Homo sapiens: one gene and its partners. The protein of the gene in region 1 purifies or fractionates together with the protein of each later gene. This does not show direct contact. Each region holds a gene or a part of one and is shown in the gene's direction. Other genes may lie near its edges.

Region 1 (7,025 bases):
TTCCTCAGATCATTGCTTTTGTCCTGGAAGGAAAAAGATCTAAAGTCACCCGGCGGCCAAAGGCCAGTGACTACCAACGTTTGGACCAGAAGGTAAGGAAGGAGGAGCCAGGTCCATGGGAGGGATAGGAGGGATAGGCAACGTCAGATGGACCCAGTAGTGGGCTTGCATTTGCCATGAAGCAGCAGTGGCTGATTCTGGGGATGCGGTTGCTGTTGCTGTTGCATTCGCCCTTTTTAGACAACAAACTAGAAACATCTAGATACACATATCTGTGACGTTAGAGCTAGCAGAGACCTTGGAATACTCTACAGCAGCTACCTCCCTTCACAGATGAGGAAATAGGCCCACGCAGAAACACTCTTTTTTTTTTTTTTCCGCTAAGTTTCTACTGCAAGTTAGTGGCAAACTCAGGACCTGATAGCAACTCCCTAGTCTCCCAGTCCTGAGCTTTCTGCATTCTGCCAGCGCTCCATAAACTTTAATAGGCATTTGAATCACCTTGGGGAATTTTGATAAAAAGCATTATCTGATTCATTAGATGTGGGGTGGAGCCTATATTTCTACATTCTTTTTTTTTTTTTTGGAGATGGAGTTTTGCTCTTGTTGCCCAGGCTGGAGTACAATGGTGCAATCTCGGCTCACTACAACCTCTGCTGCCTGGGTTCAAGCGATTCTTCTGCCTCAGCCTCCCGAGTAGCTAGGATTACAGGCGCCACCACCACGTCCAGCTAATTTTGTATTTTTAGTAGAGATGGGTTTCTCCATGTTGGTCAGGCTGGTCTCGAACTCCCAACCTCAGGTGATCCGCCCGCCTCGACCTCCCAAAGTGCTGAGATTACAGGCATAAGCCACCGTGCCTGGCCTGTGTCTACATTCTTAGGAAGTTCCCAGGTGAAACCAAATGCCACTGGATCCACACTTTGTGTGGTAAAGTGCTAGACTGTGCTCCCTGGAAACACGAGCCTGGAAGCACATAGGCCTCCAACTCCCCACATCAGCCTGGCTTAAGCACCGTAGGCTGGAGTTCCTGAGTACAGCCAATCCATTCCTCTGTCAGACAGATAAGCCCTCCTTCCACCCCATGGCAGCAGAGCTAAGCAAGGGTCTCTCTAAAGACAACCTGTCTAAGCAGGAAGACTGTACTCTCACTGCGTTGCTACCAGCATGCACCCTTCCTTCTGCTTTCAGCATAGCAACAGCCAGGACATTGGCAAAGAACCATTGGTGGCCCAACTATGAATTGTTCCCAGACTTCCTGCAGGGAACACGATTCTCTTGCACAACTCAATATTAGCTACAGAACGAGCCACTGAGCTCAGAATATCTTTGCTAACTAGTCCAGTAGGCTAGCTTTACAATTTAGCTCTGGACTACTGCCTTTTCAGATAATTGACTTTAAGGGTTTTCCCCCTTTTATGATTTTTGTTTGTTTGTTTTTGAGACGGAGTCTTGCTGTGTCGTCCAGGCTGGAGTGCAGTGGCACAATCTTGGCTCACTGCAACCTCCACCACCCGGGTTCAAGCAGTTCTCCCTCTTCAGCCTCCCGAGTAGGTGGGATTACAGGCGCCCACCACCACGCCCAGCTAATTTTTAGATTTTTAGTAGAGATGGGGTTTCACCCTTTTGGCCAGGCTGGTCTTGAACTGCTGACCTCAAATGATCCACCCACCTCAGCCTCCCAGAGTGCTGGGATTACAGGCGTGAGCCACCACACATGGCTTATGATTTTTAAAAAAATACACATGTGGCTGGGCATAGTGGTTCACGCCTGTAATCCCAACAGTTTGGGAGGCAGATCACCTGAGGTCAGGAGTTCTAGATCAGTCTGGCCAACATGGTGAAATACCATCTCTACTAAAAATACAAAAATTAGCTGGGCATGGTAATCCCAGCTACTACTGAGGAAGCCGAGGTGGGAGAATCGCTTGAACTTCGGAGGCAGAGGTTGCAGTGAGCCAAGATCATGCCACTGCACTCCAGCCTGGGCAACAGAGCAAGACTCCGTCTCAAAAAAGAAGAAAACCACCACCAACAAAAAACACATGTAAATAATTCACAACAGTACAGAACAGTATGAAGCAGAAGCCAGGATTCCTCTCTCTCCATCAAGTGTATATCTTTCTAGTGTTAGGTTTCATTTCAAACTTTAAAAATCATTTTGTGTGCTATTTTAATTAATTGCTGTTTCTGTGGTGGTGGGTCAGTATGTCTTAATTCTGAATGTTTTCCCTGCACCTCCTAAAAGATCTTTTTTCCCCTAAGTCCTAACAGAATGGTATATTCCTCTGGAAAAAGATGAACGTCACCAATGGATTGTGCTGCTCTCGTTTCAGCTTTGATTTTTTTGTCCTTGAGAACCTTGTCCTCCCTGCTGATTTGTTTCTAAATCAAAAGAAATGAAGAAAAAAGTACTGTGACCTGAGAGACACCCTCCTCTAGAATTTAGTGGCGGGTCTGGGCTGGCAGAGGTAGGGGGCTGCTTTGGGCTTTGCACCTGCACTTTGGTGACATTGTTCTTCTGTGTTCCCTTTATTTATGCTGGTGGCTTCCATCCGTTCCTCCTCTGAGGGTGAGTGGAGGGGTATATGGAAACACGGCTATGACCAAAGGGAGATCCCAGCCTGGGCAGGCTGCGCTGCTGACCACCCTCCCTGGGGCCCGGGCTCTGTAGGAAAGTTGGTCCTTGACTGTGGCATTGCACTCTGCACTGTTTCTCTCTGCAGACCTAGGGGAAAACTGCAGGTGGAAGTGCTTTTCTACTAAGGCCTCTTACTTTGGGGGGGATGTGCCCTACAGAAGACATAGAAGATGGGGAAATGCCAATGGGCAAAGAGCTACTTTGAATACATAATTCTCTTCAAAGACTTCAGCAGCAAACCAAAACAGCAGGTTAAAAAAAAAGATGCTTTTTTGGGTGCAAGTCTAACCTGTCTAGCATGAGATCTTCTTGATTTTCTGATTATTTTATGTAGCTTGAGACAAAGTGAATCAACTTCCACTTAGTTGTACCGAGCATAAAACAGAACTTGGGCTTCCTGGCAGTGAGGCCACTGTCCCATCACAGATTTTTAAAATAAATATGATTTGAAGTAGTGTGATCTTTCACACAATCATACTCAGTAGGAACTTTTTGAAATAGGGCAAGTTTATGTTTCATGCGAGAAAACATGAAGGAGGGTTTTGGTTTTGGTCTGCAGTTTTTCCAAAGGGCTTTTATGAGATACATTTCCCACAAAGTCCATTTTGCCTTTGTTGCCTAAAACAGACAAAATAGACTTAGATTTATTAATAGAAACTATACTCTCTGCCAATTTTACCTCAGTGTATTTAATGGTCCTTTAATCTGATATAAGATGCCAAGGGTATTTGATAAAAATTCTTCTTCCATGCCATGTCAGGAGTTAATACAAATGAAGAAATTCCGTGGGTTCCCCTGGGATAAGTGAGGGTAGTGTCTTGGACAACACTATTGTTTGAAGGTTTATCTTTTCTAATCATGCTCTACCGCATTGTAGAGAGCCTAAAGAGAGTTGTTTCTGAGCTGATCTCAGGGAAATACAAATAACTTGGGAGATGAGGGAAATAAGATGAATTCTGTGCTGTCAAGGCAGTAAGTCTGAAGAAAGGACCATGCTTCTTATATTATCTTCCACCTTGCTTAAAACAGCCCATAGCTTTGAGTTGACATTTTCATTCTTGGCGGATAGCCTACTTTATGAAGGTAAGGAATGAACTCCTACCCTTCTTGGGTCATTCTCTGTACTGATGCGTTAGTCTTATAATACTTTGCACCAACCTGAGGAATCTTCTAGGCTTCTCTAGCATCCCCTAAGACTGTGGCTATTTCACGTCTCTCTCCCTGCCTGCCTTCCTTTTCCCTTCCTTTCCCCTCCTCATGTTTTCTGGTTGTGCCCATCTGTACCAGCTCCTTTCCATCCACCTTCGTATGCACCCAGATTTTTCTGTTCCCATCTGTCCTATTTGTTATTCATCCCGCTGCTCAACTTCTCCAGTATGTTGCTTCCCTTAAGTTGCCATTCATTCTCTTCATGACTTTTACTAACTCACTTCGGTCTCTGTCTGTCAACTAAACTTTTCTAAAGGTTACCAGTTATCCAATCACCAAATCCATGGCTTTTTCTCAAAGCTTAGTCTTGTCCTTGGCAGAACTGGACACTATTGACCATCCAAATGGAAATTCCCCTTTCTTGGTGTCTCTGACAAATGGTCCTTTGCCTTATCTTGTGCTGGTGGTGAAGAGGCCCTCAAAGCCAGGCCTCTCTATTCCTTTGACTGTCTCCTCAGCCATTAACCCATTCTTCATCCTCGGAGTGAGTGATTCCCAAGTCTTTGTCTTGGCTTAATCCCTAAAGAACCCAGTTCTGCTGGTATCGAATAGTTCAGCTTGGTTGTCATTGAAAGGAATTTCTCTCTTCTGTCCATCAGCCTGTCCCTCCCAACTGTCTAGGACAGTCTTCGGTCACCTAAATTCCTAACTGCAGACTTTTGCCCTTTTTCTCTCTCATCACCAAAGTCCCATCCATTTTTTTTTAATAAAAGATCCTCAGCTACAGTCTTTCCATTTTCCTTGCTTCTCTTATTGCACACCCCCAGCCCATTTTGCTTCTCTCTTGGATTTTGTTTTTTCAGATCCACATTTATTGGGTTTCCTGTCCAGCTTCTTGGAAAGGAGCTCACTCTTGGAAAGACTGATCTTTCCAAAATATTTTCCCTGGTCTGAAGCTTTGGTGTGAACTTCTCAAGGCTTAGAGAATCCAGTTACAGACCTTTTGGGGTTCAGGATGCTATAGATTGACACCCTCCTGCCTGTTTTTCTCTGCATCCCAACCTGGCCAAGGCCCCTCCTGTGGGGTGCCCATCTGTGCCTTTATTCCGGCTGTGCCCTCGACTTTCCAGCTTCCCATGTTTCTTTGGTTAGGTTTCTCTCCCTTCCTTCTTTCTCCTTCCCCAATCCGCCTGTTTCGTCAGGGCCCAGTTTGTTTCCTCATACACCTTCCTCACTACCCCACCCCACATGGTTGACTCTTTCCCTCAGCTCCACCAGCTCTTCATCATGCCACTCATTTCAGAACTTGAGCAAAACAGGGCAGTCAGGATCTGATGTCTTTCTGGTCTCCCTAAGAAAACTAAGCTCTTGAGGGACAGCCCTTGGCAATGCTTTCCTATCTGCTGATCATGGTGACCTTCCTTAGGACTTCCAGAGTTCAGTTCCTTCTGGCAGAGAGGTTTTCTTTCTCCATGCCATATGGATGTGACTCAAATGAGGGGTCCCACAGCTTTTCCTGGCTACCACTTGCTGTGACCTTATACATGTTGGGGTTTGCTCTTAAAGAGGAGAGCAGGAAGAAAGGTTGGTTTCAGAAACCAAGAGGGTCGGCAGTGGACGCGTACATTTTGTCACGGAGTCCACAGAGCTGAGCTTTTGAGCAGACTCTGAGAAGTATCATTGCTTGTGTTGAAAGAATACAACAGGATTTAAGTTTCTCTTTAGAAATTGCACTGAAGAAAGGCCGGGCGCGGTGGCTCCCCCTGTAATCCCAGCGCTTTGGGAGGCCGAGGCGGGGGGATCACGAGGTCAAGAGATCGAGACCATCCTGGCCAACATGGTGAAACCCCGTCTCTAATAAAAATACAAAAATTAGCCGGGCATGGTGACGTGCACCTGTAGTCCCAGCTACTAGATAGGCTGAGGCAGGAGAATTGCTTGAATCCGGGAGGCGGAGGTTGCAGTGAGCCGAGATCGTGCCACTGAACTCCAACCTGCCAATAGAGCGAGACTCCGTCTCAAAAAAAAAAAAAAAAAAGAAAGAAATAGCATTGAAGAAAATACCGCACATCAGAGGAAAGCTTATTTTCTGCATGGTGTCTTTTCAAAGATAGAATATTTGAAGCATGTTTTCTAGCGATTGTGTGGATGAGGGTGAGCTGGCTGAGGCATCGCTCAAGCTGGGGGGTGGTGTGTAAGAAGCACGTGGAGCCACAAGAGGCACCTCCTATAGTCAGCTAAGGGCTTCCCTTTCTGCGCCCAGCTTTTGGGTGAAGGGTGATTTCTATTAGACACATCTGTGCTTCAGTCATAGATGTTAATAGAGGAAGCAGTTTTCCTGCTGCAGATTCCTGAATAGAGTTGCTGAAAGAGTCTACTTCTGGACTCAGGGGAAGTTGAAGGCCAGTCTGTGTAGAAAGGCTGAGGCAACGGGGAAAGACCTGACAGCTAGTTACATACGCTCTGACATAGTACTCCCATGATGGCTTCCAGTGACACATGTGCTGATAGAATTCTAAACCTCTGGAATTTCCCTGCTGGCGACTTCTATGGCCGTTGACTGTACAGGGTAACCTGATGCCAGATGCTATGGGCGTGATGAGAACTAGAGCATTGCAGCATGGAGGAAACTGTGAGGCACCAGATCCTGTGCTTCTGCAGGCCATTTTCTGAAAACCCCTGTTAGGAAGGTTGGATTTGGCGTGACTTGCTTGAGCAAGAGTCCTGGGGAGAGATTTTGAGGTTTAATTTAACGGTATATCCAGAGCTAACAGTGACTCAACTCGTCTAGTTCTGCAAGTCAGATGTACACTTAGAGTCTCTCTGTGAAGGGTTTGGGTCTGAGCTGTATAGTATGTCAAACTGCCAGTAAGCCAGCCCCTCACCCTCTGATAGATATTCCTTTAATGCACCAGACTTCATGTTTGATAAATGATTAATGGTTGAAATTGTTTCTCTTCTTTTGTGTTTTCCCAGTTAATAGATGGTCACTGTTTCCACAATGTTTTATACTTTCAGCTTTTTGTAACTTAACTATAATTACTTAATTTTATTTTTTTAAAGCTTGTTGTGGTCTAATGAGAAGTATTTTTCAGTGCATAATGTTTTTCTGAGCTTCTGTAAATGCCATCCCAATGTGGTTTGGTTTTGTTGAACAGAAACCAAAATAAATTTCAAAATGTTAAAGCAATGGATTTAATACATTTATTTATTTATTTATTTTATTTTATTTTTG
Region 2 (8,006 bases), on another chromosome or scaffold:
TTTTTATAGGAGATTTGGGGTTTTTCCTTAATGTTAAGTACTTTATATGTCAGAGATATTACCTTTTTATCTATAATGTTGTGGAAATAATTTCTCCCAACTTGTCATTTGTAGTTTTTTCAAATTGTGATGAAATATACATCACATTAAATTTACCATCATAACCATTTTAAGTGTATAATTCTGTGCCATTAAGTACATTTACCATCCATCTCCAGAATGTTATCATCTCAAACCGAAACTCCGAACTCATAAATAATAATGGGAACTCCTAATTCCTCTCTTCCTCAAGCCCCTGGTGACTGCCATTTTACTTTTTGCCTCTATGATTTTGGTTACTGTAGGAAACTCATATAAGTGAAATCATTTGGTATTTGTCTTTTTGTGTCTCGCTCATTTCATCTAGCATATTGTCCTCAACGTTCATCCATGTTCTGGTATGTGTTAGAATTTTCTTCTTTTTTAGGGCTGAATAATATTCCATTGCATGGATATACCACATTCTGCTTGTCCATTTATCTGTTGATAGATATTTGTGTTGTCCCACCCTTTGGCCACTGTAAATAACACTGCTATGAATGTGGATATACAAATATCCGTTTGAGTCGCTGCTTTCAATTCCTTTATGTATACAACCAGAAATGGAATTGCTGGATCATATAGTAGTTCTAAATTTAATTTTTTGAGGAACCACTATACCATTTTCAACAGCAGTGCGTAAGGGTTCCAATTTCTCTACATCCTCACCAACACTTGTTATTTATTTATTTATTTATTTTAAAAATGTTTTATAGGCTGGGCGCGGTGGCTCACACCTGTAATCCCAGCACTTTGGGAGGCTGAGGCAGGTGGATCATGAGGTCAGGAGTTTGCGACCAGCCTGGCCAATATGGTGAAACCCTGTCTCTACTAGAAATACAAAAATTAGCAGGGCATGGTGGTACATGCCTGTAGGCCCAGCTGCTTAGGAGTCTGAGGCAGGAGAATGGCTTGACCCCAGGAGGTGGAGGTTGCAGTGAGCCGAGATTGTGCCACTGCACTTTAGCCTCGGCGACAGAGCAAGTGTCCACCAAAAAAAAAAAAAAAAATTTTATATAATAGCTATCCTAATGGATATGAAGTGGTATCTCACTGTGGGTTTTTGTTGTGTTTTGTTTTTTATTTCCATAATCAACACTGGAGGTACATTACAGTTTGTCCTCATGAATTCTAGTTGTTCTCATGAGGTACATTTTGTCCTTGCAGTTTTGACTTTGTCTTTGAAATGCCCCATGTCACATCTAGCTATTCTTCTGATTCCCAGGTCTAGAAACTACAGTGACTTCAGACCTGCCCCATGTACAATGGAAAGACTTCCATAACCTTTTTTCTTCTACCTCTAACATTGTCTAAAGTTTAATCTCTATCATACATCGCTTATTCCATCAAACTAATAATGATTTTACTTTGCAGATCAAATCCTAATGATATACAATTGATAAGTGTTTAGGAAGGGAAGTTTTGGGCTATAAATTGTCCCTCTTCATCTCATTTAATGCTTTTTGGCCTACTCTGTTTTGTTTGATATCAGAATCACAGCACCTGCTTTTTCAGAGTTGGGGTTTCCGTTATGCCTACATTTGAAAATCTTTTATTTTAAAGGGTGAACTGAGCCCACTTATAAATTGTTATATCTGATGTGGGTTGGTCTCAGCTGTGTCATATTGTTTCCTATTATAACTACTGCATCACTGTGCCACACTTACTGTGTTTCTTTCATTATTTGGTATGTATTCTTTGCTATTTTTAGAACTTTTGGGGTTTTGGAATAGGGTTTCCAATATTTGGGAATACATATATTTTGTTGTAGTGATTTTTATTTATATTTTTAATATATTACCCTTAATTCCTATATTTTGTTTCTAACCTTTTAACATCTGGTCTGTCTGTTTTATATGGTATCCTTTCACTACTACCTGCTACTGATATTGCAGACAATGATATTATTCTATTTTCCCTTCGCTCTTCCCCTTCTCCTCCAGTTGTCTTTAGTTGCACCTGTTCTAAGTTTATCAGAAAGTATAATGTATATACACTAGTCTTTCACCTTCTGAATATACAAAATGCTCTCCATTAGTCACTCTGCTGGCTTCCTCAGCTGTCTCTTGGTTGGAGGAAGCTCATTCTCTAAGATTCCTCATGAAAGGCCCATGTGAGTCACGTTCTCTGAATTTTTGCATTCAGGTCATATCTGTTTGCCTACAACCTTGACACTTGAGGGCTGGGTATAAAAATCACTGCCTGGTACTTTTTTGTGTGTGTGTCATGGAGTCTCGCTCTGTCACCCAGGCTGGAGTGCAATGGCATGATCTCAGCTCACTGCAACCTCTGCCTCCCGGGTTCAAATGATTCTTCCACCTCAGCCTCTCGAGTAGCTGCGATTACAGGCACCTGCCGGCTAAGTTTCATATTTTTTTTAGTGATGGGGTTTCACCACTTTGGCCAGGCTGGTCTTGAACTCCTGACCTCAGGTGATCCACCCACTCTGGCCTCCCAAAGTGCTGGGATTACAGGCATGAGCCACTATGCCCAGCCTGCCTGGCACTTTTGTTCCTTGTTAATGCTGCTCCACTGTTGCCTGGCTTTGCATGTTGCTGTTCAGAAGTCTGATGCCAGCATAAATTTTTATCTCTATAAGCAATTTGATCTTTTTTGCCTTTAAAATCTAATCGTTTTACTAAAATATATTTAGGAGTTGATAATTCCAGATCATTTCCCAAGGTACATGGAAGTCACTTTTGACATGTACATTTAAATTTTCCCTTATTCCTGGATTATTTTCTGGGGTTATAGTTTTAATATTAATTAGGTTTTATTGTTTAATGTTTGTACTTTAGGGACTCCACTTAACATGTATTTTGGTCTTCCTTTCCTGGCTTTTATTTTAACCTCTTCTCTCTGAACCTTTTTACTTCTATCTTTATATTATTTTCAATTTCTTGATTGTTTTCTTGCCATTCTTCAGTGTCCTTTTACATATTTTCATTTGAATATATTTTCCCTTGGACACCTTGTAATTATTCTTTGTTTCTGGGATAGTTTTTGTCATTACTTTCAATTTCCTTCTTGAATTTGCTCAACCCTTGTTGCATTTCTTCCTAATTTTTGTCTAGTCTGTCTTCAGTTCTTGAAATTTCTTATCCTAGATATGTGTGTGTGTGTGTATGTGTATACAAATACGTGACACTTTGTTCAGTTTGACATGTGGTATTACAATTTTCTTATGCTTCATGGTTTTTATTGTGGGGGTTTTCATCAGCGAAAATGTTATGATTTATTTTTTATCATCAGAAATGTGATTTCTGTTTTCTTTTTGCAGAATCTTTAAATGCAGTTGATTTGATGTTTTTCTGTTACTAGGCATTTTGAGGCAGGGTTCCCGGTTCAAGAGTGTTTTCTTTTATCTGTGTACTGAAATGCAGTTTTTAATAGATAATGTTGGTGTTTGGGGAGGGGACTGGCTGTCTTCTCTTTCATTTCTGCAGGATTTGTAATTTTCCCTTCTGACTTCCTTCTTTCCCTTCATTGTCAGGCCTCTGAAGGACATTATCTTCTTTTCGTATTTATCTGACTTTTTCCCAGAAACAAGGCTCCTTCAAGCCTCTCACCTCTTGTCCCATTTTCTTTCAAATCTCTTCCCTTGATCAATAAGGCACCTGACCTCTGTTCAGTTTTTAGTTCTTGGTGTTGGACTTTCTATTTATAAAGAGGTGACAACCCTGTACTTCACTTAAGTCCTTGGCAATAGTGGAGGGAGCTCAGTTGGAATTTGGTATCTTTTCTTTCTTCTACTTAAGTAATTTAATGTTCAGTTCATGGCATTCTCTCTAAGTAATGCTGAAGGCTTGTTTTTGTTTCGTTGAGGATATGGGTACGGACTTATATCAGGCAGCTGCCATTATCCTCTGACCGAGAAGCTCCTGAAAACATTTAATATATCAAGTTCTAAGTAAAATTTCTGTCTTTCTTAGGAACACTGGAAGCTTTGCGTGTTGCAAGGGCATCACCAAGGTTACATAGATTATGTTACAAGACAGATCGTTTTCTTGTATCGTTAAAGATGCTTAATGTGCTTTTTAAAGAACGCAACGAATGAGAAAGAAAAGATTTTAAACAATATATTATTGCTTTCCTTCTTCCTCATTTTGTGTTTATTGAAAAGAACAACTCTACCATTGATAGCTCTGTCACCCACAGAAAAATGTTCTTTTGAAAATTACCTTCTCAGTTCCTACCAACTCAAAACCTCCACATCTGCCTATATAGATAAATAAAATCGATACCAGCGGGTCAGGAATGTTTTGCTGCAAGATTAGTGAGAAAACTGCAGCAAGCAGCAGCAAAGTCGGGTTCAAGCGGGCGGTTTGCACCAAAAACTCAGGTCAGTTGGCCAATAAGAGCAAGCCCGTTAAGGGTCTGAGGTGGCCCCAAAGACCAAGGCTGAAGAGGTGACAGTCTGGGCAGGAAGCACCGAGGCCACTACCGCCCCCGTAATCGAGAGGCCCCGTGTGCGTGAGCAAGGCTCTTTGCCCACGTGTGCGCGCGCTCCAGTCGGGTCCCGGGGCAGCCACCTGTCACTCACGGGGGAGGGGGCGGCCGGCGGGGGGAGCACGCTGAGGGGCGGGCGGCCGGGGGCGGGGCGGCGCCCAGGCCCTCACGGCGGAGCCCGGCGTGCTGCAGCCATGGAGACGCGGCAGTCCCCTCCCGCGGCCCGCGCCCCGGCCCCCGCAGCCGCCGCCGATTGGTCGCCCTTTGCTCCCTGACCCCCCTCGCCGCCTCCGAGGCCGCTGCTTCCTGCTCTGGTGCCGCGCGGCGCCGCCGGCCCGGGGCGGAGCTCGGGCGCCGAGTGCGCGCCGCCGCCGAGCAGTAGCACCGCGCGGGAGGAGGAGCCGCCGCCGCGCCCTTCCCCTTCCTCCGCTCCTCCCCCGGCCCCCACCGCGCCCGCGGCCGGCCCAGGCAGCACTCGCGAGCAGCGGCGGCCCCGCCGGCGGCCGAGTTGGGAGAATGCGGCGGCGCTCGCGGATGCTGCTCTGCTTCGCCTTCCTGTGGGTGCTGGGCATCGCCTACTACATGTACTCGGGGGGCGGCTCTGCGCTGGCCGGGGGCGCGGGCGGCGGCGCCGGCAGGAAGGTGAGTGGAGCGCCCTGCCGCGGCCGGGCCCCTGCGCCCACCCCCCACCCTGCGCCCCTGTCCCCTGCCCTCTCCGCGCCGCCCCTGCGCTCCTCCGCCCGGACCTCCGCTCGCGTCGCCCGCCCTCGTCCCGGGCCTCCGCGCCGAGTGCCCAGGGCAGGGGTGCACCCGGCCCCTCTGCGCACGCCGGGCTCCGAAAGGGCGGCCCCCGCAGCCTTTCTCTGCCCCCTCTCGTGGACGTCGCCCCTCTCTCTGCTCGTCGTAATTCGAGTCTTGTCCGGCCGCCGGGAGCCCCATCCCCTGCGGTTGGAAGTTTAGGGATGGGGGTGTTGGGAAACACAAAGGGGGTGGGGAGGAGAGGAGAGAGAGGCGACCGCTTTTCCAACGCGTCATGTACAGCAGGAGAGAGGAGTCCAAGTTTCTTTTCAGCCCTTTGATACCAGCGGCTGCAAATCCTCGTCCCTTTCCCCCTGTCACTCCGCGGGGCGTGGGTTCCGTGTTTCTGCCACCTTCTTTGCCCTTTACCTTTGGGGGGCAGGGGCGGCCGCTCCCGTGCCAAGTAAAGCCCCAGGGCCCGTGCGAGCCAGGGGCCAGTGCGCCCCTGCGCCCCGAGCGAGGCCAGTCCCGGCCGTTCCCTTGCGGCCCCAGCGTTACCCTCTGCCCAACCCGGCCCCCGGCCCTCCCGCGCGAGCCGGACGTGGCCTCCTGCGCTTGCATTTTCCATCCCCACTCCCCGCTTCAGGGAGAATCCCTCTTCTGTGGCTGTGTTTTTAACATGCTCCAGGGGCCGAGTGATCTGGCTGTGGGGACCGTGTGAGCCGCTCTGCGGTTCCGCGTCCTCGTGCCGCCGCTCCGGACGGCCGGGCCCTGGGCATTCGGGAGGATGGTGAGCGCCGAGAGGAGCCGGGACAGCGCGGTCCTGCGGCCGAGCGCCGGCCGGGAGAGCAGGGCGTCGGGCTGTGTGCTGGAGCATGCCGGCAGGGGACGTTTGTAGTGTTTTACTGGCTCCTCGGCTTTGAAAGCAGCGTTATCTTTTCCGAATTCCTGTAACCCTCGTTACTGTGACATTTAGTGTCACCGCAAACCCAGAAAATTCTGAGTTAATGGAGATGGACTACGGGTGGTTGGGTTGGAACAAGAGAGTGGTATCCTGAAACAAGCCAGAGGGAACTAACTAGATGAACAGACTTCAGTTCTGAAGTCAGACCCCTAAATGTCCACGCCGGGGTTTGGCTGCTTCAGAGGTTTTTTCTTTGCTTCATTCATTCATTCATAGCCGAAGATGTTAGGTGGAATGGGTGCCTTATGTGGTTTCTGGTAAATTACGTGGATTTGTTTTATCTAGAAGGGCAGAAATAAAGCCCTCTTTCCACGTGCTGAATCGGCCTAGCTTCTGAGCTGACATTGTACTCTTAGCGTTGTTTTTGTAAAAAATGGTATAGGTAGTATATGTACGCGAAGACTTGGTTTATTCTTGAACAGCAAAGAGCATGCAGGCAGCAAAAGCCGTGCAGTCCATTCAGAGATATAATCGTGTAAAACTGGAATGATTTTTAAAACTTTGCTTCCCGGTAAACTGTGCCTTGGCCACTCTGCATAGCCTGGTGTGCTGGTGAGACCTGGCAAAGCTTTCTGCCTTTCATGCAAAGAAAACCAAACACATAAGCCACCCTTGGCGTTTCTCTTTCCTTAGTCTGCCACTTTCATTAGTACACGTGATTAGAAAGAGCAAGCGTGCTCGTTCGCCTCCCGGAGGCTGATTCCTCACTCTGGTGGGCTTCAGTTCCTGGATGGTGTGAGGGGTCTTCCATGCAGAAGTCTTCAGACACTCCTGAAGTGTGTGATTCTTAGTTTGTTTTTTTTTGTTTTGTTTTGTTTTGTTTTGTTTTTTTTAAAGAATTCCTGGTGGCAATATAGACAGGTACGGAGACCAGGTAGAAAAAGTGGGGGAAATGAACAATTAATTACACATGGATTGGTGATTTGGGATTCTATTCTTTCTGTCAACGAACCATAAAATTTAATGCTACCCCTTAGGATGCTTTAGTGATTTGTCGGTTGAGGAAGAGGTGTGTAAATGCAATAGCTTTTGAAATTGCAGTGGAAGACTCATTAACTTCGTGTGGTGGACCCAGGGTTAAAGAGAAGCCTTAAGATGGTTTCTGAAGGAGGTAAATAGAGCCCTGCTGTCACGAATGCCTGATGTATAGGAAAATCGTGTAGTCTTCTTTCTTCCCCAATTGTTTCCATGGATTTAGACACTAGAAGTGTCTCTAAATTTATTTCATTCTCATACCAAAAAAAAAATGTGGTTTGTTTGGCTTGTAAAGTATGGACATAAAAAAAGATAGCGGGCCATGCACAGAAAGGCAGAATTTAAAAGCTAGCTATAGTTTTTTTAGAGATAAGTGGACCTATATTTTTTCTCTTGCCTCATACTGTTCAAGTCAGGGCTTTTATTCCATATTTAGCCAGTTTCTGCACATCCTGACGTTTTTCATAGGGTACTAGGCTGCAGTATTGGGCTTTAGGGATCGTCTGAGGGGAGTCCAACTAGGATTTCTGCTGCTTCAGCAGCCCAGCCCAGGCTTGTCATTGTGTGCCCTGCCTGTTAAGTAACTCATCACAGAACTGTTATTCTCCACTTGGCAAAACCCAGAGAGCCAGCTCACCTCAGATTGCAGGTTTAGTAAACTAAGCAGGAGGGAGTGCTGAAGACCAATCTCAGGCACTGCCGCACAACTCGGGACTCAACACCCAGGCTCAGGACATGTATGTTAAAGCAGTTTATTCAAAATATTGTTTAAAATTATGTTTCATTTACATTTGTGTCCATA
Region 3 (6,921 bases), on another chromosome or scaffold:
TTCTTCATTTTTAGCCTCTTTCCATTATGAAAAATTTCATCTCTGCTTCAGTATATGTTAATCCCACAGGCATCCATCCCAGCATAAAGCTTCAGGTGATAGTTGAGATGATGTGTCAAAAGGGGGACCCATGTAATCTGTGGCAATAAGAGGAAAAGGGGAGGGTTTCCCCCTTAATGCCTAACATATAGTAGGTGTTCAATAAATTGTTTTTGGATGAATTTGGGGAAATAAATTAATATATTTCAATCATGTTTAAAATACTCCATATTTGACTTTTTAAAAAAAATTTGAATTTTTTTCTTAATGTGTCAGGAGTTGCTGCACAGGGGGAAAGCGAAGTTCCCAGGAGTAAGATGTGCAAGAAGCGGGCAGCCTTGCATCTCAGGGCTGAGTTCCCTCAACTGTGTGCTTGAGGGAAGTTCTCCCCTTGCAGACACACTGCTGAGTGATAAGGAAGCACCTAGACTCCACTCTGACCAGACTTGGTTCTGAGGCCTATGAAATGTTGATGGGAAGAACAGAAGCAGGAAAATCTATCTATTCAAATTTGCAAGACGTGGAAACTTTTATTCACCTTCCTGGTTAGACTGTTCCTTTGTCAAAGTAAAGCTAAGGCCATGGAAAATGAGCTATTTGAGAGTTTGTCGCTCCAAGGAAGAACATGCTGGCCTAATTGTCCCCCAAGTCAGGAGAGAGAATTGTAAAAAACACTTAAACAGGCCTAAGTAAAGGTCCAGCACATTATTTATTTAAGACTGAATTAGAACTGAGTCATTCCGACTCTGAAAAAAGAGTGTTGTTGGATTCTTATGTATTTAATGGGTCTGCCCTATTGAAAACCATTGTGAAGTATGGTTTCCCAAGCAAGAAATGACACTTTCACTGTCAGTCTTTCTAGGAGTCTGGCAGAATCCAGGACCGGGATTACCCTTATTTATGAAGCGACCTTAGACTAACAGTGGCTCTCTGGGTCTCCAGACAATTGGCCAGGGACTCTAAAAACCAGAAACAAAGTTGAGAGAACTCCATGCTGGTGGAGAAAAACAGCTGGCCTTTATCACCAGAATGTGCCCCATAGAAGCAGCAAAGCAGCAAGCGACGTTCTTAAACAAGGGCCTGTGGGCCTCGTCAAGATCTGGAGGAATCATCTACGACTCACTGCTGAGTGAGAGGGCTAGGCAGTGTCTTTAAGGTCCTGCCAGCTTTAACATTGTATGCTTTTTCTTTTGTTCAATCTCTCACCACAACTGGAAGTGTTGCCTCAACTACACAGGAGAAAGTTTGCAGTAACTTAGAGAAAACATTATTTTAATCACCAGTGTATGTTCTCCTGCTCCCTGGACAAATCCATCAGCAGCGGCAACACTGACCAGGTCCAGATTGGGGCCGCTGCGGTGGATGTGAATCCATTGAAACTAGGGGTCTCCAGTGCTCCTGACTCCTCACAGCTCTGTTCCTATGACAAGGATGGTCAGCAAAGCCAGCAACCTTGAAGGGGGACCTTCTTCTAATCTCCTCCCTGCCTGCTGAGAGAGTGTACAGAAGCAGCCACTTGTCAGCTGCGATGAATCCAATGATAATTACATAAATCATTAACAATACTTGATATTTGCCCATCACATTTCTCATTTCAAAGTGCTCATAAAATTGTATCTCATGGGTGGCACTGCCGGCACAACAGAATTCCAAGGAAGGATTACGGGCTAAGTAAATAAAGCCTGGAGGCTGCTTTAAAGCCTAGGAGTCTGTTATTAACCCTTTCCTCCTTTTTGTTTAACTTTTTCTCATGGAAATGTTCAAACATACCAAAAATAGAGAAAATACTATAATGAGTCCTTATGTATCCATAACCTAGCTTCAAAAATTATGTATGGCTTTACAGTCTTGTTTAGTTCATAACTGCAACTTCATTGAGGGTGAGTGCTGGGGTATTGTGAAGCAAATCAGTGACAACATATTTTACCCATGGATACTTTAGTGCCATTAATAAAAACCCCTAGGTTATTCTATTAATTTGAAATCTACTATAAATCTATCTGATGAATAAATCAAACAGATTTTAACAAATTGCTTCTCTTGCCAAAGTTTCCCATTTGCTAGAACTAGAGATTATTCATCAAAATAGCTGTGACAGTAGAAACATACCACTTGTCTACACACACAACACATAGCATACTTAGAATAGGAATAGATCTCTGATTTGATGTCCCAGTAATTTAGAGATTGATGATATCCTACCGATACTTTAAGGAGCAGACATTTTAAAACGATGGTACAGACCCACTAGTCTGACCTTTTCTCTGTTAGTCACAGTTGGGCTGTGGTCATTCCCGGAGTCCCTAAGATTAGAACAGGTAATGGGTCACCTGTGTGACCTGCACCAAGGCCAGCCCCACCGCCCCCGGCCACAGAAATAAGATCTCTCTCTCTCTCTGTCTGTCTCTGTGTGTGTATGTATGTGTGTATGTCTGTTTCTGCCTCTCCCACATCACATACATACATACACACACACACACACACACACACAGTGCCTCACTGGGAAGAAATGAGCAGGTATGGAGGAGACATTCTCAGAGATGGATCTCTACTGTGCTCCGTCTTGACTTATTTGCTGTCAGTGCTCCAAGGGATGAGCTCTGGAGGTCATCAGTAACTTGGTCAAACATCCACAGCTACTTCTTCATCCTTCTGATCCAATCAAGAGATTCCTATGCTGAAGTTTTACCTTTCAGGAAAGGCTGAACTAAATATGTAAATAATGAAAGTAGACCCTGTTCTTGGGGGTAAAATGCTGCATAAGTACATTCTTTATTGTTATATCATAGATTTTAGATTAGAAGTGGCAGCCTAGGGCAGTCATTGATTATCTTCTTAGGGATAGGGGTTAAATCACATTATCATTGCAGTGCTGACGTGTAGGACACGGAGGTTCATAAACATCCCGTGGAGTAGCACCCAGCACATAGCTCTACTGGGTCCTTTTGCGAACAGGCAAACCATGGAGCCTTGCTGAACCCTGGATGAACTGTGTACCTCCTTCTCTTGCCACCTCCTTCTTTCTATTTTAATAGCTATTCCTATTTTTATACACATCTCCTCTTAAAGAGTTACTTAGCTGCTAGATTTACCTCAAGGATTGAGGCATGTAAAATTTATTTTTAAATATAAAATGGGGGTTCACAGAAAACCCCTAATCCATTTCCAAAGCCATCAGCTTTAGAGCTGACTTTCCTCTTTCTCCCCTGAGCAACTTCCTTTTCCTGATCTTCTGAGGGAATATCCCTCGTCCCACAAATGCTCCAGCACCTCCTAATTTAATACCCTCAAGTTGTATATATACCAGGAAATAAACTCATAATCTCCATCCTAATCAGTTTGTAATATAAAAGGAAGAACAAAATTCCCAAACTTTAACCCTATGGCCTTTTCAGTGTTTATTGATGAGTATATTGCAAACACCTGGGTAGCCAGAGCACCTCTGCTTCACTCCTCTGCTTAGAAGCAGCTTCTGCCACACATCCAGGATTATGTAATACATATCTGTCACGGTCCACAGGACCAGCGGACTTTAAAAAATAATGGTGACATAAAAACTCACAGTGGTAGCTATACCACGGAACCCTAGGTGAGAAGGCACCTCCACCCGCACACAGGTGTATGGACGCAAGGATGAACGTTCCGGCCGCACGCGTCCCACACACGGACGTGCACACGGGCGCCTCCGAATAGGCTCGCGGTTCCCGAAGCCGGCTCCGCGGACGCCTGCTCTGGCTCCGTGGGAAAGGCGCCTCCGCGGCGGGGCCCCGGGCAGCGCCAGACCCGGCGGGCGGCGGCGGCGTTGGCGCGGCCAGGCGAGGGGGGTTCCCGCAGCCCGCCCGCCCCGCCCCTCGCGCCCGCGGCTCCGCCTCGCCTAGCCATGGTGGAGCAGGGAGACGCGGCGCCGCTGCTGCGCTGGGCCGAGGGCCCCGCCGTCTCCCTGCCGCAGGCCCCGCAGCCGCAGGCGGGAGGCTGGGGCCGGGGCGGCGGCGGGGGCGCCCGGCCGGCCGCGGAGCCGCCCCGGAGGCGGGAGCCCGAGGAGCCGGCCGCCCCGGAGGTGCTGCTGCAGCCCGGGCGCCTGGAGCTGGGCGACGTGGAGGAGGACCAGGTGGTGGCCGTGTTCGTGGTCACCTTCGACCCCCGCTCGGGTGAGGGCCGCGCCGGGGCCAGGCGCGTGGGGAGGGTCGGGGTGCCCCCGAGCTTTGGGGGCGCGGGGGAGGGGCTCGCTGCGCGCGCACCTGCCCTCCCGGCCCCGCACCCCGCACCAGGGCCGGCCCCGGGCTCCCGGGCTTGGGGAAGGGCGGGGGTCGGCCAGTCCTCAGCTCTCTCCCTCGGGGCGCAGCTGGGTGCTGGCGCGCGGCCTCTCGGAGCGGCCCCGAGGGCTTTGTTCCAGCCCCGCCGACCTCCTCTCCCCTCCCCTCCTCTCCTCTGAGTCCCAGCCCCACAGTGGTGTTCGCACTTCAGTGACAGGGCATCCGGTTTGTGGCCACGTTGGGTTTTGTTTTCTTTTCTTGGGGGCTAGAAGATTTTTCACGTTGTGCGGAGGAAACCCCCCGGGCGAGCGCCCTGAGCTCCCCGCTCGCCCCCCATCCCGTCCCCCGCTCCCCGCTCGCCCCCCACCCCGTCCCCCGCTCCCCGCTCGCCCCCCACCCCGTCCCCCGCTCCCCGCTCGCCCTAGCTCCCCGTCGCTTCCTCTGGGGTAACTTTCCTAGCGGCCAAGTTCACTTTCTCTGACTGCATTATTTTGAGGAATTAACGCCGGGAGCATTAAGGGATGGGGCTGAGGGATTCAGCTGAAGGCTGATTAAAGGAGAAGCCTCCCCGGATAGGCTGTCTTTCGGAGATGCTTGGAGAATTAAAGTCTTATCCCACATAATCTTAGCCTAACCACCCGGCAGGGGGGTGTGCGTTTTCCAGGTGAGAGTCCACGGGGGACAGAAGGTGGAAGAACGACCCTGCGCGCCCAGGAAGCCTTGGAGGGTCAGCTAGGGACTTCTGACTCTGAGAGTGGCTCTGCTGTTCGGGGTTGGGGGAAGGAGGTGTCATCGCAGGAGTCGTGGTGTCAGGGCTTAAGGAAACCCAGGTGTGACTGTCAATGTCTCCAGGGCAGCTGCTGGAGTGTGGAGTGCCTGTTCGTGCGGGAAAATATTGGCTGCTTTCTGGGATGAGGTGGGATGGAGTGGAGAAAAAAAGGGGTTAGGATCTGGAGAAGGGGAATCTGGTATGGCAGCTGATGATGGGTTCCAGGCCGGTAATTTTGGGGTTCTCAGCTGTAGGACACAGGAAGAATGTGGGATTCACTGTGGAGCTCCATTTGCAGGGACAGAGTTTGTGGGGACAATTCAGGCCTTTGTGACTTCTGCTTGTTTCTTTGCCACATTCCATGGCTTTCAAACTCTTTTGACTGATCTATCATGTGAAGTTAATTTTACATCACAACCAATATGCTCACATACACGTACAGTACTTATGTAACTGAAATAGACATTTCATGAAGTAGTGCTGACTCCTTCTACATGTAATGCATTCTTTTTTCTCTCTCTTTTTTTTTTTTTTCAGACAGTGTCTCACTCTGTCGCCTAGGCTGGAATGCAGTGGCTCTTTTCTCTTTTTTTTAAGTGTTCATCACACATGCTGGTTGACTCGCATTTGAGATTCCTAGATACCAGTAGTTTGAAAAGTATTGGTCTTTTTTGACCAAAGTTACCCGTAATGCTAGACAAAAACCAATACTTTGTAACTAATCATATTGCTTATACTGTACCCCATCATTTACAGGTAAACAGCTACCAGCATTTGACTTATCCTGGGAAATATTTCAGAGTAACTAGAAGGAATAGAAAGGGCACATTCACACGGTCTGATTTAGTATTGGTAGCTCCAGTGGTAGAGTCTTAGGGAAGGGAAAGAGAAAAGAAGTTTTATACTAATTACAGACAGATAGGGTGGATAATACTGATAATTGATCAATTATTGATATTGGCCAATTGATATCTATCAATTGATAAAAGCGCCAGAGGGCTAGTACCTGCCCCCATTCCTTGTCAGTCACAGGCAGTGAGCATGGCTTTGTGAATTTGTGTATACGGAGTGTGTGTGTGTGTGTGTGTGTGTGTGAGTGATGGTTTTCAGACTAAGGCTACTGTGCAAAGAAGGGATTGTAACACATTTAGACATTTTGTGCAGGCATTTTACTATAATGCTGTTTGATTTATTCTGATCACTGCTCTGTAATTTGATGATCATTTATACCCAATTTGTAAATGAGGGAACATACCAGGGATGGTTAGGTAATTTGGGAATATTAAGTAGCCAATAAATACTTGACTGTAAGTCCCATTGTCTTTCTAGTATACTATGCTGCCTGAACCCCTGCTCCCTGGCACCTGATCCTTACTTATCCAGGGATGGAGGAGAAAGGAGGGAGGAAGAGAGAGCGCAGTGTGAGAGGGAGCACTTGTAACTTGTGTTTTTTTTGTGTTTTTTTGTGGGGGGAAAGCAGTCCTTTACTGACCATAAATGTGTTTGTCTCTTTTGTCATCTATCCTAGTCCTAAATGGCACTTTGCTTCCTGTAAAAATACTCTGATAGACCTTGTACCATATAATTTTATTTTATATATATCTTAAAAGTAGGAGATGTAGTGAATGAATGCTACTGAGCTTCTGAGGGCCTCAAGGTTAGCACTAGGACAGGGCCCTCAGAGAGTGCCTGATGTACCCCTTGTGTGATGGTTCCGGTGGAGTGAGGCCCATAGTGGCACAGTGAGCTGGACCATCACTGGCCCAGCATCTTCCCCCCTTTACTGCTGAGGCAGATCTGCTATTTGTTCCTATTTAATATTGGCCCACCCAGACTTTTGCCCCTCCTTCGCCTGTGTTG
Region 4 (7,025 bases), on another chromosome or scaffold:
TGTACACGTTTAGCAGCTTCTGCCGTTTTTATGGAATCAATTGTGTATTGCTGTGGAAAGAAGTTCATTGTCAGCAGTGCCTTTCAAAGTAGACTTGCTGCTGTTCCATCTACAGAATTTCAGTGGTTGCTCCATATATTGTTTGAAAGCTTGAAACAATTTCCATATTTTCTTGCCCTTTTTTACTTTTTAGGAAAAGGATTGAATTTGTTCTATTGTTTTAATTATATGGACATTAAGACATATTTGAAACCACTTATGGTTTAATATGACAAACGTGACATTCAGTGGTTTCAGAGGTTAATACCTTTAATCATATTACTGTAATAAAATATTTTTATATAATGAAGAAACAGATACCTCCAATTTGGGTAATTTATAATGTAGTTAACATTAAACACTATATTTATTATTAAAATATTAAATTTTGCTGCAAAAAAATCATAGGTTACTTTTTTACTTGAATAGGCTATTAGGGCTATTCTTTTTTATTTTTAATTGACATAATAGTCGCATCTTTTTAGGGGGCACAGTGTGGTATTTGGATACACATAATAATGATGAAATTAGGGTAATTAGCATATCTGTCACCTCAAACATTATTCATGTTAGAAACAATTCAAAACCTGCTCTTCTAGCTGTTTGAAAATATACATTAAGCTACTATTAACTGTAATCATCTTATGGTGCTATAGAATACTAGAACTTTTTCCTCTTATTTAGCCATAATTTTGTTACCCCGGGCTGTGGACCAGTACTGGTCCGTGGCTTCTTAGGAACTGGCTGAACAGCAGGAGGTGAGCAGTGGGCAAGAGAGCATTACAGCCTGACCTCTGGCTCCTGTCAAATCAGTGGTGGCACTAGATTCTCATATAGATTCTCATAGTAGCACAAATCCTGTTCCTGTTGTGAACTGCACATGCGAGGTATCTGGGTTGCCAGCTTCTTGTGAGAGTCTAATGTCTTTTGTTGAAACCATCCCCACGCTGTCCTGTGGAAAAATTGTCTTCCACAAAACCAGTCCCTGATGCCAAAAACATTGGTGACCGCTGTGTTAACCAACATCTTCCTACCCGCCTCACCCTTCCCAACTTAACAGTAACCACTGTTGTATTCTCTACTTCTATGAGGTCAACTTTTTTTTTTCTTTTTTTGAGACAGGGCCTCACTCTGTTACCCAGGCTGGAGTGCAGTGGTGCAATCATAGCTCACTGTGGCCTCCAACTCCCAGCTCAGTTGATCCCTCTGCTTCAGCCTCCCAAGTAGCTTGGACTACAGGCATGAGCTACTATACTCAGCTAATTTTTCTATTTTATTTTTTTTTTTTTTTAGTAGAGATGGGGTTTTACTATGTTGCTTAGGCTGGTCTTGAACTCATGGGCTCAAGAGATCCTCCTGCCTCAACCTCTCGAAATGCTGGTATTACAGGTATGGGCCACCATGCCTGGTAAATCAATTTTTTTAGCTTCTACATTTGAGTGAGAACATGCATTATGTATCTTTCTGTGCCTTGCTTATTTTTACTTAATGTCCTCCAAGCTCATCCATGTGGTCTTCAATGCAGGATTTCATTCTTTTTTATGGCTAAGTAGTATTCCTTTGTGTATATATACCACTTTTTTTTTTTTAATCTTTTCATCTGTTGTGGAAATATAGATTGCTTCCGTATCTTGGCTATTGTGAATAGTGTTGCAATAAACATGGGAGTGCACATATTGTTCAAGATACTGATTTCCTTTTTAGGGGGCATATATCCCTAGTGTATATGTTCTATTTTTAGTTTTTTGAGAACATAGATTACATCTTAAAATTAAATACAAATGATATCCATGTGACTGCTTTTTGCCATAGCAATATTTGGGAAGAGTCATATCTGAGGAGAATGGAATAGCAGAGAATATCAGTGTATTTTGAGGTGGTGCCATTTCAAATTGCTCACATCTCTCACACTTTCCACATGCTTGTGAGTTTTTGCTGTCATGAGCCACTTGATCATGGCTATGCTAGAATCATAGGCATTGATTGGAATAGTAGTGGCACTGTGGAAGAAAAAAGAGAAACTTTTTATCTGAAGAATGTGCCCCCCTTCACCACTTCTATTCAATGTAGTACTAGAAGTCCTAGCCAGAGCAATCAGACAAGAGAAAGAAATAAAGGACATCCAAATGGTTAAAGAGGAAGTCAGACTGTTGCTGTTTGCTGATGACATGATAGTATACCTACAAAGCCCTAAGGATTCATCCATAAAGCTCCTAGAACTGGTAAATGAATTCAGCAAAATTTCAGGATACAAAATTAATGTACACAAGTGAGTAGCCCTCCTATATACCAACAGTGACCAAACTGAGAATCAAATCAAGAATCAGCCACTTTTATAAGACTTGCAAAAAAATTAAAATATTTTGGAATATACTTAACCAAGGAGATGAAAGACCTATACAAAGAAAACTATAAAACACTGCTGAAAGAAATCATAGGTGATACAAACAAATGGAAACACATCCCATGCTCATGAATGGGTAGAATCAATATTGTGAAAATGACCATACCACCAAAAGCAATCTACAAATGCAATGCAATTCCCATCAAAATACCACCATCATTCTTCACAGAACTAGAAAAAACAATCCTAAAATTCATATGGAACCAAAAAAAGCCCACATAGCCAAAGCAAGACTAAGCAAAAAGAACAAACCTGGAGGCATTAGGTTACCTGACTTTATACTATAAGGCCAAAGTCACCAAAACAGCATGATACTGGTATAAAAACAGACATATAGACAAATGCAACAGAATAGAGAACCCAGAAATAAAGCCAAATACTTACAGTCAACTGATCTTTGACAAAGCAAACAAAAACATAAAGTGAGGAAAGGACACCCTATTCAACAAATGGTGCTGGGACAATTGGCAAGCCACATGTAGAAAAATGAAACTGGATCCTCCTCTCTTACCGTATATAAAAATCAACTCAAGATGGATCAAAGACTTAAATCTAAGACCTGAAACCATAAAAATTCTAGAAGATAACATTGGAAAAACCCTTTTAGATATTGGCTTAGGCAAAGACTTCATGACTAAGAACCCAAAAGCAAACACAACAAAAACAAAGATAAATAGATGGGACTTAATTAAACTAAAAACTTTGTGCACAGCAAAAGAAATAATCAGAGTAAACAGACAACCCACAGAGTGGGAGAAAATCTTCACAACTGTACATCCGACAAAGGACTAATATCCAGACTCTACAAGGAACTCAAAACAAATCAAGAAAAAAACAAACAATCCCATCAAAAAGAGGGCTAGGGACATGAATAGATAATTCTCTAAAGAAGATACACAAATGGCCAACAAACATGAAAAAATGCTCAACAACACTAATGATCAGAGGAATGCAAATCAAAACCACAATGCAATACTACCTTACTCCTGCAAGAATGGCTATAATCAAAAAAATAAAAAAAAATAGATGTTGGCACGGATGTGGTGAAAAGGGAACACTTTTACACTGTTGGTGGGAATGTAAACCACCAACCACTATGAAAAACAGTGTGGAGATTCCTCAAAGAACTAAAAGTAGATCTACCATTTGATCCAGCAACCCCACTCCTGGGTATTTACCCAGAGGAAAAGAAGTCATTATATGAAAAAGATACTTGCAAACATGTTTATACTAGCACAACTCATAATTGCAAAAATATGGAACCAGCCCAAATACCCATCAATCAATAAGTGGATTAAAAAAATGTGGTGTGTATATATACAGACACCTGGAATATTACTCAGCCATAAAAAGGAATGAAATAGTGGCACTTGCAGCAACCTGGGTGGAATTGATTGGAGACCATTATCTAAATGAAGTAACTCAGGAGTGGAAAACAAAATGTATGTTCTCACTCATACATGGGAGCTAAGCTAGGAGGATGCAAAGGCATATGAATGATACAATGGACTTTGGGGATCTGGAGTAAAGGGTGGGAAGGGGATGAGGGATAAAAGATGACACATTGGATACAGTGTACACTGCTCAGGTGATGGGTGCACCAGAATCTCAGAAATCACCACTAAATAACTTATTCACATAACCAAACCCCACCTGTTCCCCAGAAACCTATTGAAAAAACAAAACAAAACCCAAACAAACAAAACAAAACACAACTGAGTTCCTTTCCATTGTGAGGCCTAGAGAGGCATTGGAATGAAACCGCAGTTATGGCACTCCCTTTTGACCTAAGCAGTTATCTCTGGAAGCCACCTTCTATGTAGGATTTAGACTAACTGACGCCAAGTAGCCATAAAATACCATATGCTGGACACCATAAGTCATACCTTATAGTGCAACAATGAATAGCCAGTCACTAATCAGTGATTGTAAACCAATGAGAATTCTTATCAAGCAACTTTGTATCTGCCTTGTTCCTTTTTCCCTTTAAAATCTGCTTGTAACTCAGGTGCCAGAGCACTCCCCAGGCATCTGGGAAATATGTGTTGAGTAGCTGTCCTCATTTTGGCTCAGGTAAACTAAAGTATATTTTGTGCCTCAGCCTTTTCCTTTTAGGTTTACAGTAGGAATAGTAATACTAGCAGTAGTAGGTGTGTTGGAATAGAATAAAGATTGTGAACCAATACTTTAAAAAATTCACCTCTGCCTTGAAAGAGTGTTCTGCCTGTTACTCCTTTTTTAAAGTAACAGCACAACAATACACCTTCTTTCACATCCTCCTTTCCCTCAGCAATTGCTCTGTTAGTATCTCTTTGAAGTGATTTATTATTCATAGCCAACAGTAGAGAAACTTTTAACTTTGATCTAGAGCCACATTGATAATGAACTGGTGATATGCTTGTCCCTTTGCTGCTTTAAATCTGTCCTGTTTTTAAATAGGCTGTTTTGCAACATTGAAGCTTAAGTTTAATATTGATCCAGTACGCACTTATGAACACGAATTATGTGCCAGATGCTGTATTGGGCACTTAGGATACAATGGAGAGCAAAAAAGGGATGTAGTCATGGCTTTTATGGAGTTTGGATTATATTGGAGGAATTTGTTGGGAGAATAATCATGTAAATGAGAAATTGCAACTTTGATGAATACTATGAAAGGTACATAAGAGTAAATGAGACCCTATTTTGGGATGTCAGAGAAGGCTTCCCTGAGGAAGTTATTGAGCTAAGACATAAAGGAATTATGTGTAAATAGGAATGAATTAAGCTAAGAGAAATAGGAATGCCATTCAACATTGCCGTAGAGGGAATGGGAAGTGAAAAGCACCTGTGGTGGGCAAGCGCATAGTGCATTTGAAGATTCGAGAGATAGTTGGTATGTGTAACAAGAGAAGAGGGCAAAAGAAGCAAGGCACAAGATAAGTTTGAACAGACAGAGAGGGACTATTTCTACATGACTTTATGGCCATGCAAAAATATTTGGGGCTTTATCATAATCGTGGGAAGTCTTTTAAACCAGTTCGTAGCCTCAGATATGAAGTTAGAATAGTTCACTCTGACTATGGTATGGAGAAAATTGCAGAGAATGACATGAATGAATGCAGAAAATTGTTTAGAAGGTTTCTGTTTATGTGAGATTATGATAGTGTGGAGTAAGATAATAGAGGTAGGAGAAGGTATTCAGAACAAGAGAAACTGGAGAGGTAAAAATAAAAAAAACCTAGAGATGGATTGGAACAGAGGGATGAGGGAGTTCAGGATAAATCCAAGTGACAATCTTGTGCAGCTGGTTGCCTGAATAGATAGATGAATGTGTTATATTATTAGCAATAACAATATTGCCAACTTTATTGATCAGTTACCATGGGCCAACCTCTCTTCTGAGTCTTTTACATAGACTGATTCATCCAATTCTCACAACAGTCCTGGAAACAGGTTTATTAGTATAGTTACTCCAACTTTACAGGGATTAAGTAAGAGGCCTGAGGCTACGGAGCTAGAGAAATCAGTCTCTGCACAAACACATTATGTCTGATGGGGGATGGAGGAGGTGGAGAGAGAAGCAGACAGAAAGAGTGAGTGTGGCTGAATAGATAGCAAGAAGTGAGATTGTAGGGTACAAGGGAGGTTTTGTTTTCATTTTGTTTTTAAATAAAAACAAATAAAACATAAGTCTGTGAGAAGCATCTACTTGAGAGAAAAGCCAAATATAGAAAAAGAGTGGGGTAGTTAATATTAGTAAGATTTTGTAATAACAGCTACTTAGAAGAGGGAGAGAATGGGAGCAGACAGTAGGAGGTTGTGGAAGTTTCTGTCTGATGGCTTTTTTTTTTCTGTAAAATAGGAGCCCACGTCAGTTGCTAAAAGTAGGTGAGAGTAAGAGCATGAGGCTAGTAGAAGAGGTTTGAGATAGTAATGGAAGAGTGGGAGAGCCAATTGGCCAGAGAAACAGGACTGCCAGGCATTGTTGAGGAATGGCTTGGGGTTAGTTATCATAAATTATGGTGCAACCGGTCTGTACTGTTGTGTGATTTTCTCTAGCAATGCATATCTGTTTAGGTACAGGCACAGTAATGAGAGTAATAACTAGGTTTATTCAATGTTATAGCAAAGGAGTTTGTTATACAGACAAGTGTGTTATTGAAGTGAAAGTGGTAATGGGGCTGATGAAAAGGAGATAAATTGAAGACTAAGGAAGGAGAATTGACAGGATTTGATAATTATGTAGATGCAGGAGATAAGAGAAAGGGTTAAGGATAACACTGCATTTCTGTTTGGGAAATGATTGATCAGTATCTGTAGTGGGTTGAATCGTATCCCTCCAAAATTCATATCCACCCCCAAAACCTCAGAATGTGACCTTATTTAGAAAGAGGGTCTTTGCAGGTGTAATTATGTAAAGATGGAGGTAAGATTATAGTGGATTAGAGGGGGCCCTAAATCCAATGAAAGTGTGCTGATAGGAGACAGAAAAGGCCACACACAGACACAGAGAAGAAGGCTATGTGATGATAGAAGCAGAGATTGGAGTGATGTATCTACAAGCCAAGGGATGCCAGTGATTGCCAACAGCACCAAAAGC

The links.
Region 2: the proteins of TGOLN2 (region 1) and GALNT2 purify together in Homo sapiens (affinity purification with mass spectrometry; 5 studies listed by BioGRID and IntAct, with this or other methods). This does not show direct contact.
Region 3: the proteins of TGOLN2 (region 1) and DENND11 purify together in Homo sapiens (affinity purification with mass spectrometry; 4 studies listed by BioGRID and IntAct, with this or other methods). This does not show direct contact.
Region 4: the proteins of TGOLN2 (region 1) and GOPC purify together in Homo sapiens (affinity purification with mass spectrometry; 4 studies listed by BioGRID and IntAct, with this or other methods). This does not show direct contact.

The regions. Positions count from the first base shown.
Region 1 is NC_000002.12:85,317,982-85,325,006, reverse strand, and holds the end of TGOLN2 (trans-Golgi network integral membrane protein 2 isoform 1 precursor), read left to right. Parts: intron 1-8; coding exon 9-92; intron 93-2,207; coding exon of another isoform or gene 2,208-2,265; coding exon 2,266-2,271; coding exon of another isoform or gene 2,272-2,302; 3' UTR 2,303-6,980; downstream 6,981-7,025. UniProt on the Homo sapiens protein: May be involved in regulating membrane traffic to and from trans-Golgi network.
Region 2 is NC_000001.11:230,062,238-230,070,243, forward strand, and holds the start of GALNT2 (polypeptide N-acetylgalactosaminyltransferase 2 precursor), read left to right. Parts: upstream 1-5,000; 5' UTR 5,001-5,043; coding exon 5,044-5,169; intron 5,170-8,006. UniProt on the Homo sapiens protein: Catalyzes the initial reaction in O-linked oligosaccharide biosynthesis, the transfer of an N-acetyl-D-galactosamine residue to a serine or threonine residue on the protein receptor.
Region 3 is NC_000007.14:141,699,152-141,706,072, reverse strand, and holds the start of DENND11 (DENN domain-containing protein 11), read left to right. Parts: upstream 1-3,906; 5' UTR 3,907-3,919; coding exon 3,920-4,187; intron 4,188-6,921.
Region 4 is NC_000006.12:117,592,502-117,599,526, reverse strand, and holds part of GOPC (Golgi-associated PDZ and coiled-coil motif-containing protein), read left to right. Parts: intron 1-7,025.